2 separate regions of the Homo sapiens genome follow, and region 1 is linked to region 2. The links come from fine-mapping of genetic effects on gene expression. A gene starts in region 2. The other region holds a variant in brackets. All regions are shown on one strand. Distances are from middle to middle.

The links. PIP is the estimated chance that this variant, and not a neighbour inherited with it, causes the effect. A credible set is the group of variants that fine-mapping cannot tell apart.
Region 1: its variant is the best candidate, but not a certain one, in a credible set for the expression of UTRN in whole blood (TOPMed, PIP 0.59).

Annotation. Positions count from the first base shown.
Region 1 is chr6:144,615,360-144,619,755 of GRCh38, forward strand. All of the region lies in intron 51 of UTRN (utrophin), which reads left to right. Among named protein-coding and RNA genes, the nearest start is that of SNORA98, 210 kb to the left of the region's middle. The variant C/A (reference allele first, on the strand shown) is at 1,824.
Region 2 is chr6:144,283,523-144,287,918 of GRCh38, forward strand. It overlaps UTRN (utrophin), which reads left to right and starts at 1,813. Exons shown (of 75, transcript NM_007124.3): 1 at 1,813-2,299. LOC124901418 reads left to right here and starts at 2,976. Exons shown (of 1, transcript XM_047419641.1): 1 at 2,976-4,396. The coding sequence starts at 3,149. The coding sequence ends at 3,757. RefSeq lists an enhancer at 1,183-1,252 and silencers at 1,383-1,442, 1,653-1,752.

The sequences.
Region 1 (4,396 bases), 330 kb after region 2:
TGTCTGTTTAGACTGTTTTCTTTAGGAGTCCACTTGTCTAACTTCAGTTGCCATCTCAGGCATTACTTCTCCTGGGAAGCCTATCTCACTGCCTTTCCCTTTAGACACCTGGACTAGGAGTTTCTCTGTGCTCATATGATACCCTTTAGGACTTTTTCATTCAGTTAGTTTCTGAATCCTTTAGCTCAAACCAGAACACTCTAAGTCACGCTTGATTGCTCATTTTTTCACCTACCCTATGTATTCCTATTTGTTGTACCTCAGCTAGCACATTGGTCTCTGCCTCCAAAGTATATTCTTAATCATCTGTCTCTCTTCATTTTCATGGTTAATCCATCAAAGCCATGCCATTTTATCCAGACAAATGGAGTAGCCATCTAAGTGTTGTTTTTGCTTCTAGTATTTGAAGCAAATACATAACATAAGTTATGGAAGCAAATACATAACATGACATAAACCAAGTCATGTCAGTTCTCTGCTTGAAACAACCCAAAGGCTCCCATTACACTTATAATAAAATCTAAACCCCTTACGCTGCCCTACCAGGTCCTACATGATCAGGCAGGGCCATTTGTCTCTCTGACATTTTAAAAATTTTTAACCATCACTCCTGTCCCCTGGCCCACTGTATTTGGCTCTTTTCTCTTCCTTGTACATACCAAGCCTTCCTACCACAGGACCTTTGCACTAGTGTCTCATTATCTTGAAACAGTTTTCACTGATCTCCATGTTGTAACTCCTTCTCGGCAGTAGCATTGGACCCTAAGGATGTACAATGTTTTATACTGTGTTTAATTCAGTTACTCTGAATTAGATAAGCAGTGGGCCTTAACAGCATACAGGTGAAATCTTGAATAATTTAACAAGTATTGATTCTGAACTATTGTTAAATAATTCACACAGTTAATTATAATTACCATTATTGCTTAAGAACTACTTAATAAAGCAGGGTTTGTGGCTAGAATTTAAAGACAATTTGTTGGATACCTTTAATCTATAGAAATGTATAATAAAGATGAGAGAAATAACTGTTAGCGAATCCTTTGGATTAAGCTACAAGCCATTATAATTTGCAGTAGCAAGCCTTGTAATGCTAATGACAAATATAAGTCAGTTTGTTTCCTATGCACTCATGGATCAGTGGTTACTTCGGAAATTTGTGTTTTGTCTGATAGTTTTTTTTTTTTTTGAAAAGCCCTTTTTTAAAAAAGATTTTAAAAATAAAGGTGAATTTCACACAATCTAAAATTAACCAAAGTGAACATCTTTGGTAGCCTTTTACTTTGATTTTTATGTATATTATTATAGTTATTTAATAGCCTCTAAAAATACCCAGAATGGCTTACCACTTCCTTTTCAAGAAAAGAATTCTTTAGTCTCCCCAAATCTTATGCCCACTGGCTCATTGTACAGTCTCTCTGAATTCTATGCCAGTTCCGCTCTTATAAATTGTGAGCCTGTGTTTCTTGTGCCAGGTTCTATTCCAGGCGCAGGTGGGCATCAGTGCAGCCAGCCCGCCATAGCGTTCTACCACCTGGTGTAGAAATCTGTTAGGAATACGGGAAGACTATTTGTGGCCTTTATTGACTATCCTTTGCCTTTGAATCCGTGAGCAGAAATCTATTATTGAATAAAGTCCCATGAATTCAATTCAAACCCTGCATTATTGATTTTCAAGCAGAACTTGTGCCATAATACTGTTATACTGTAGTTGGTTACATTCAGGGTCAATAGAAATGATTTCTTGAGATATCAGTGGATAATTTTCATTGGGATTAGTCAGGAATGTGTTCTGTCTTCCATCTGTCTGCACATTGTGAGTT[C/A]TTAATGATTTGATGCCTCTTTTGGCTGAATTATATCCACCATACCATCACTCTGGTGAGCAAAAAGAGAAGCATTCTGTATTATACAAATGATATGTTTAGAAACATAACTAAGAATGTTTTTAATCACCCACTGGCCTACCCATCCAATCCCTGCTATCAATTAACTATTCTGAAACCATCATCATGATTTCACATGATATTTCCTCTATTTAAAGTAGTGTAACTGTAAGTCACCTCAATTTGGTATCCAGGTTTGCGTTTGGCAATAAATTCCTCTTGGCAGCTTCAGCAAGTTATATTTCTTAATACTGGATCTGCTGAGGTTATGTTTATGGAGACCAGAACTATGAGTATTGATTTATGTTTGCTTTGAACATCTTCCAGTCTAAAGTCATTGTGGCTATGCTTTGTTGATGAACTGCAGGAGATTGCCCTTGGGATTGCATTGAGTGAACTTGGCCCCTGTACTTCTTCAGATCATTTCAGGAGAGTTGAGGTGGACTTCTCTTTAGGAAGGTGTTCTTTTTTTTCAGCTCTTCGTAAATGTCCATCAGTCTTGCTCTGCATAGCCAAGCTGTTGAAGCATGATCACCTTGCATTGAATAAGCTGCACAGAGCTACTGTTCTACCGGGGAGTATGCTTGCAGGGGAGCATAATCTCAAATTTACTGCTACCCACTCGGTACCATGCAGAGCTTGCTTGGGAGTTCAGGGAGGATTGTTTGAAATGGGCAGTTCAACTATTCTTCCAGATAATCAAAAAAGCCATCCCTCGATTTAGCAGAACATTGAGAAATCCTTTCCTTTGACTGTATTGTATTGTTTCTCTAAAAGCTTGCTTTGATTAAATTGCACCTGGGTGTTTAAAAAGAGAATACATGTGAGTGTTAATGCACTTACATTGTAATTCAGATGGATCTTTTTTGCAAACTAAATTAAAAGGTACAGAGACCATTCAGAGAAGCCATCTGTCACTATTTGAAAGTTATAATTAGGGTCATAATTTTTAATGTCATTGTCATACATTGGAAAATGGAAGCTTTGGGATATCCACTGGAGGTTTTACCTCTCCTCTACAATGCCACACTAAATTTGGAAATTTATTCAGCTGAAATTTTTTCAAGTTTAAATATTATATTTACTTTTTATTGATGATACTACTAAGTACAGTGCTTCCTTGAGTGTATTCCTTAATAAATATTTCTTCAATTTGTTTGAATATTTTGCCACAAACCAGTCTTTAGCTTGACATTTGAATTTAATCTTCCATGTATTAACTAGGCATGTACAAAACACATGCTTATTTATTAGGCATGCACTAACTGTACTTTGGTTACAGGCTAAAAGACTTTAGAGTTGGTTTTCAAAATCTATTTGCTTCAAAGAATCTTAGTAGTCAGTAGTTAACCAAGAAACTTTAAAAAAATGAGCCCCATTTTAATTTTATTTACCCATCTAGCTATTCATTTATTTGACAGATATTTATTTTTGTGCCTACTATGTACTTGGCACAATGATAACCTTTTCCCAGTTCTTTTACTCTGTTATTATTGTTTAAAGTTTGGAAATTAAAATACTCTATATTATATGCTATATTAGTTAAAGCTAAGCATGGTGCTGTATCATTAAACACAACAATAACAGCCAAATAAAGTTAGAACACACCAAATATGTTTTATTTACATGCAAATATTTAAAATGATATATTTAGGTATAGTATTTAACAACTTTTATGTTCCTCACATCAGAATTTATATTCTTTCAACAAGAGCCTTTTTAAAGATAAGGATTAAATTGACCATGCATAACTTTGATGTGATTAAGCTATTTGATCTTTTAAATAGAATCATTCGATTTTGCTGACACTTAGCAATAGCCCATTATTTTAGATATAATTTCTTTGTGATCATAGTAAGTTTAGAGTCATAGATGACTCCCTCGAGGTCTTAGTAGCATATTATGAATTTGGTATCTATGTGATTAAATAAGCACAACAAAATTCATATCAAATTGGTCGATAAACACATTTTTAATATTGTGCCAGACTATCATTATTAATTTTTAAATCAATATGTAGTAGTATGACCACAATGTCATATTCATTAGTAAAGTACAGCTGTTTTTTATGCCATCAGGATTATTTGGCATTTAAGCAGTGCCTTCTACTTTAAATGATGCCATTATCCTTTGAGGACTCTGCCTATCAATTTGGTCAGTCTAGAAATGCAACTCATTATAGAATGAAGCTGAATAGTTACTGAAGCAGAATACAACTTTACAACCTCTTAAACCAGAATATGGGAGAAGCCCAATTTACCTTTAAAACTTTTGGGTGTCTACACAGAAAAAGGTGTTAATGTGCCTTGTGAAATTTCTCAATGGTGAATACATTTTTTATTCTATGTGATTTATTTCTGGAGATGTACATTAATCTTTGTGAAGTTGCTGTGGAATTTGGTTGGGTTTGTCAAAATGTGTCAAAAATGTGAAATATCCCAGTTCTACTAATTTTCTAACACAAAGTTAGATGGACAAAGTTAGATGACAAAGAAGAAGACAAAGTTAGATGG
Region 2 (4,396 bases):
TACAAAAAATTAGCAGGGCGTGGTGGTGGGCGCCTGTAGTCCCAGCTACTAGGGAGGCTGAGGCAGGAGAATGGCGTGAACCCAGGAGGCGGAGCTTGCAGTGAGCGAGATCGCGCCACTGCACTGCAGCCTGGGCAACTGAGAGAGACACTGTCAAAAAAAAAAAAAAAAGAAAGAAAGAAAGAAAGAAAAAATCCTGGAGTCCCTCTATGTGACCATACTCAGCTAGCACTTGATCTGTTCTTTTCTTATGGCATTTATCTCCCGGATCTTGTATATACTTACTTGTTTACATGTCTTATCTCACCTACTACATTCCAAGTTCTTTAAGGGTAAGATCACTATCAGATTTATCTTTGCTTTACCCACAGAACCAGCAAACCTGACAGCCCTAAACTGATGCTTGTTAAATGAATGAATGAAGTGAATGAATAAAATCATACCCATTTCAAGTTAATCCTTTGGATTTTATTTGGCTTATACGTAGAAAATCATCAAAAGGAAGGAAACTGTCCTAGAAACCTTACAAGGAAGAGTCTCTTTTGGGAATCTCCTACCTGCCCCCTCCCTGGAGCACTTAGGGATGGATGGGGGAAACTTTCACTATAACAAAAGGCGAGTAAACTCTTTCTGAAAATTAGTTTAAGGCCCCTAGTGGTTTAATCTTTACTGCCGCGTAAATTAACTCAAATATTAAGCCAGCAATAAACCGGCGCTCCAGTATCAACCATCCTTTTCTCTGTTAATACGAACTAGGAACTCAGGTTGCTGTTTTCTTTCCCCTCCCACGTGTGCTGATCGTGTAAAAGAATCACAGGAACACACGAGCAATGAAATGTGTAAATAAGAAAAATGCACACACATCACGAGCTCATTTCTTCCCAGATATTTTTTGGTCAACCTCTCAAGCTTGGAACAGGCTCTATAACAGATGTGCGTTTGTGTGTGCATATTGGAAAACAGAAAAATAAGGTCAGCGCAAACACTACTTGTAATACAAACTAATGTAAGAGAAAACTTCTTTTTCAATATTAACAACGACACTAGAGAAATAATGTAAAATAAATATACGGTTGGAACTAGGGGTAAAAAAAAAATCAGCAACGTCAGCAAACTGAGATGGGGTGAGTTGGAAGGCAGATTGGAATTTATCTCTTAAAAAAATATCACCCTAACTAGAGACCTGTTTTGCCTAAGGGGACGTGACTCACATTTTCGGATAATCTGAATAAGGGGAATTGTGTCTGCTCGAGGCATCCATTCTGGTTCGGTCTCCGGACTCCCGGCTCCCGGCACGCACGGTTCACTCTGGAGCGCGCGCCCCAGGCCAGCCAAGCGCCGAGCCGGGCTGCTGCGGGCTGGGAGGGCGCGCAGGGCCGGCGCTGATTGACGGGGCGCGCAGTCAGGTGACTTGGGGCGCCAAGTTCCCGACGCGGTGGCCGCGGTGACCGCCGAGGCCCGGCAGACGCTGACCCGGGAACGTAGTGGGGCTGATCTTCCGGAACAAAGTTGCTGGGCCGGCGGCGGCGGGGCGAGAGCGCCGAGGGGGAGCCGGAGCGCTGCAGAGGCGCGGGCCGGAGGGCTGGCGCTGATCTGCACCCTTCTCATCTGGAGAGCGGACCCCTGGCTGCCCGGAGGCGAGCCCCTTCCCGGGGGGTGGGGGCGGCAACGCGCGACCCAGCGGTCCTGCGCCCCACCCTCCCTCCTCCGCCTCCAGCGCTCGGCTCCAACAAAGGGGCAGGCCCGCAGCGGGGAGGAGGAGGAGGAGCCGCCGAAGGAGCGAGCCTCTCTCGCGCACAAAGTTGTGGAGTCGTTTTTCCTCGGAGCAGGGAAGCGGGCAGCAGCAGCCGGCCGCGGGCTTTCTCCCGCCGAGGGGCGAGGAGGAGCCTCTGGCTCCAGAAGCCGATTGGGGAATCACGGGGAGCGGCGCCCCCCTTCTTTTGGGTCATTTCTGCAAACGGAAAACTCTGTAGCGTTTGGCAAAGTTGGTGCCTGCGCGCCCCTTCCAGGTTTGCGCTTTGACTGTTTTGTTTTTGGCGGAACTACCAGGCAGGAAGATTGCACAAGTAAGGGGCGTTTTCAGTCGGGTGTCAATTTCTCTTTCTTTCTTTCTTTTTTTAAAATTTCGGTTCGTGTCTGCTTCTCCAAGCTTTATTTTTTTTTTTAAATACATCGCACCACCAAACTAACACTCGCACACACCCCCGCGGTTACTCCGTGTCAAACTCCTAGAGGAGCCCTTGGCCAGCTCGGGGTGCGGCGGTGGCGACCGGCAGGCGAGGAGGCCCGCGGGCAGCAGGTAAGCCCATGCATTATTGAAGCCTCGGGCTGGTAATGTGACTACAGCCCCCGAGGGAATGGGGCGGGGGCCGGGAGGAGGATGGCTCTTTCTGTGGTTCTTCCGCCTGGGATCGGCGTCCCGAGCTGCTTCCCAAGTCCCAGAGTCGAAGATGGGAGTAACTTTTGCGTGCCCTTTCCTCGGGGCCTCAGTTTAGCTCCCCGCGGTGCGAGAGAGAATGCCGGAGGCGTGGAGAGCTCGGGCGTGGAGGTCCTTGGGATCCGTACTAGTTGTGAACGATCCAAACTTATCTGACCAGCTCTGTGCTGCCTCCCTGCTCCCCTAATCTTCCTCCCCGCCGGGGTGACAGAGTCGCCCTCCGTGCATCGCGCGGTGCAGGGCGCTGGGCCAGTGATTTGCAAGAGGGGACGTGGCCTCTTAGGAGAGTCTGTCACAGACACCCGGGCCCGGGGAAGGCGGGGCTCCGGCGGTGTCCACAGGAGAGGGTGGGCAGAGGGTGGCTGTGTGGTCGGCGGCCAGCGGAGCGCTTCCCAGCCAGCCGCCCGGCGGGGAACGTGCTTGACCTCTGGGTGGTTGCTGCTCCCAAGGGTGGGGCTCCGGAGAGTGTGGCGCGATCGCCAAGCTCCCTGGCAGCGGCCCTGGAGAGACTGAGGGGACAGGAGGAGGGGGGCGCCCCATTGGTGTGTAGTCCCGCGCAGTCGCCGGCTCTCCTTTTCCGGACTCTGGGGATCTCTTGCTGCAACTGACAAGGTAATTCATGCCCCGCTTTGGCCCGGGGTCCGAGGCTGTGGTTGCTCAAGGCCACTTAAAAACCAACAAAGCACCAATTGAAGGCTGTGCAACTTTCAGATGGCAGGTTGTTCAAAGGATTTTTTCCTCCAAGCCTCAGATTATGAAAGGGACTCATTCCAGTGCGTTTTTCGAGGAGGAGGGAGAAAACGTTGCCCGACCTCCGAGAGAGCTGTGGGACCAGCACTTTATTTTACAAGGAACTGCAGAGCTCGGGTTCTAACTCCACGGCCCCGCTCTCTGAGGTGTTCAGGACAGGGCCTCCTCTTTCCCAGCCTTCAGGTCAGCCGGATCACCAGGGCCTTGCGGGCCAGTTCCCCCTGCCGCGGTTGGGAGGGTCAGTGCAGCGGTCGCCGCGGCCAGAGCGCGCGGAGCTCGGGGGAGGCCGGATTCCCTAGGTCTGAGCCGACCCTCCCGGCCGCCCGGCCGGGCGGCAGCGACCGCATCCATTCCTTTGTAAGTTGCACCGGCCTCAGGAAGTCGATCTGGGCCCTCCCGGTTCGTTGGCGGTGGGCGTGGGAGACGCAGCCTGCGGATAGCTCAGGGTCAGGGGAGAGGTGGAGGAATGCGAAGCTTGTGGGTAGTTCTGCGGTGACGGACAGGGTTGGCGTGGAACCATTCCCCGCCCCTTTTACCAGCCTTTATGGGACCGATGAGACAACTCTTTAACTCTCCTTTGGGTGTTTACCTAAAATTTATTGGCTCTGTAAACAGTATTAATCACAGTAGTATTAACCTTCCCTGGAGCGCTTCCGAGTGTAAATGGCAGTTCTTGGCACTCACCGTTTTCTTTTACTGTGTTTCAAGCAGAGCAGCAAACTCTTGTCCGCTTGGCTTCCTTTTCTACTATCTCAATCGTTCCTAGGTTTTGGTTCCTATAGTAAATTAATGAATAGTGTTTGCATTACACAGCATTTCCATCATAATGCACACTGTTGGATATATATGTGCTATATACATAAAATATAGTACAAAATAAAAATTATATACATATATTCATTGTATAATTCCTAAAATCTTAAAAAATTGAAACATTAGTTTTGTCTTTAAGGCTGTCACCTTATGTTTATTTTTTAAACACCTTATGTTTATTTCATACACTCTTGCTTGGTGGTCCATATGACAGCCGGAAGCGTTCTGAAGGGAGAGTTAGTGAATATCGACTTGACTGGATTGGTTTCAGTAAGAACATCTGGCTTTTACAGAATATCATTTGAGGGAAGGGAAATCTAGGGCAGAGGTAACAATAAATTGCATTTGTATAGGGCTTGAAGCTTCTAAAGCAACATCTCATTCATTGATTCTCAG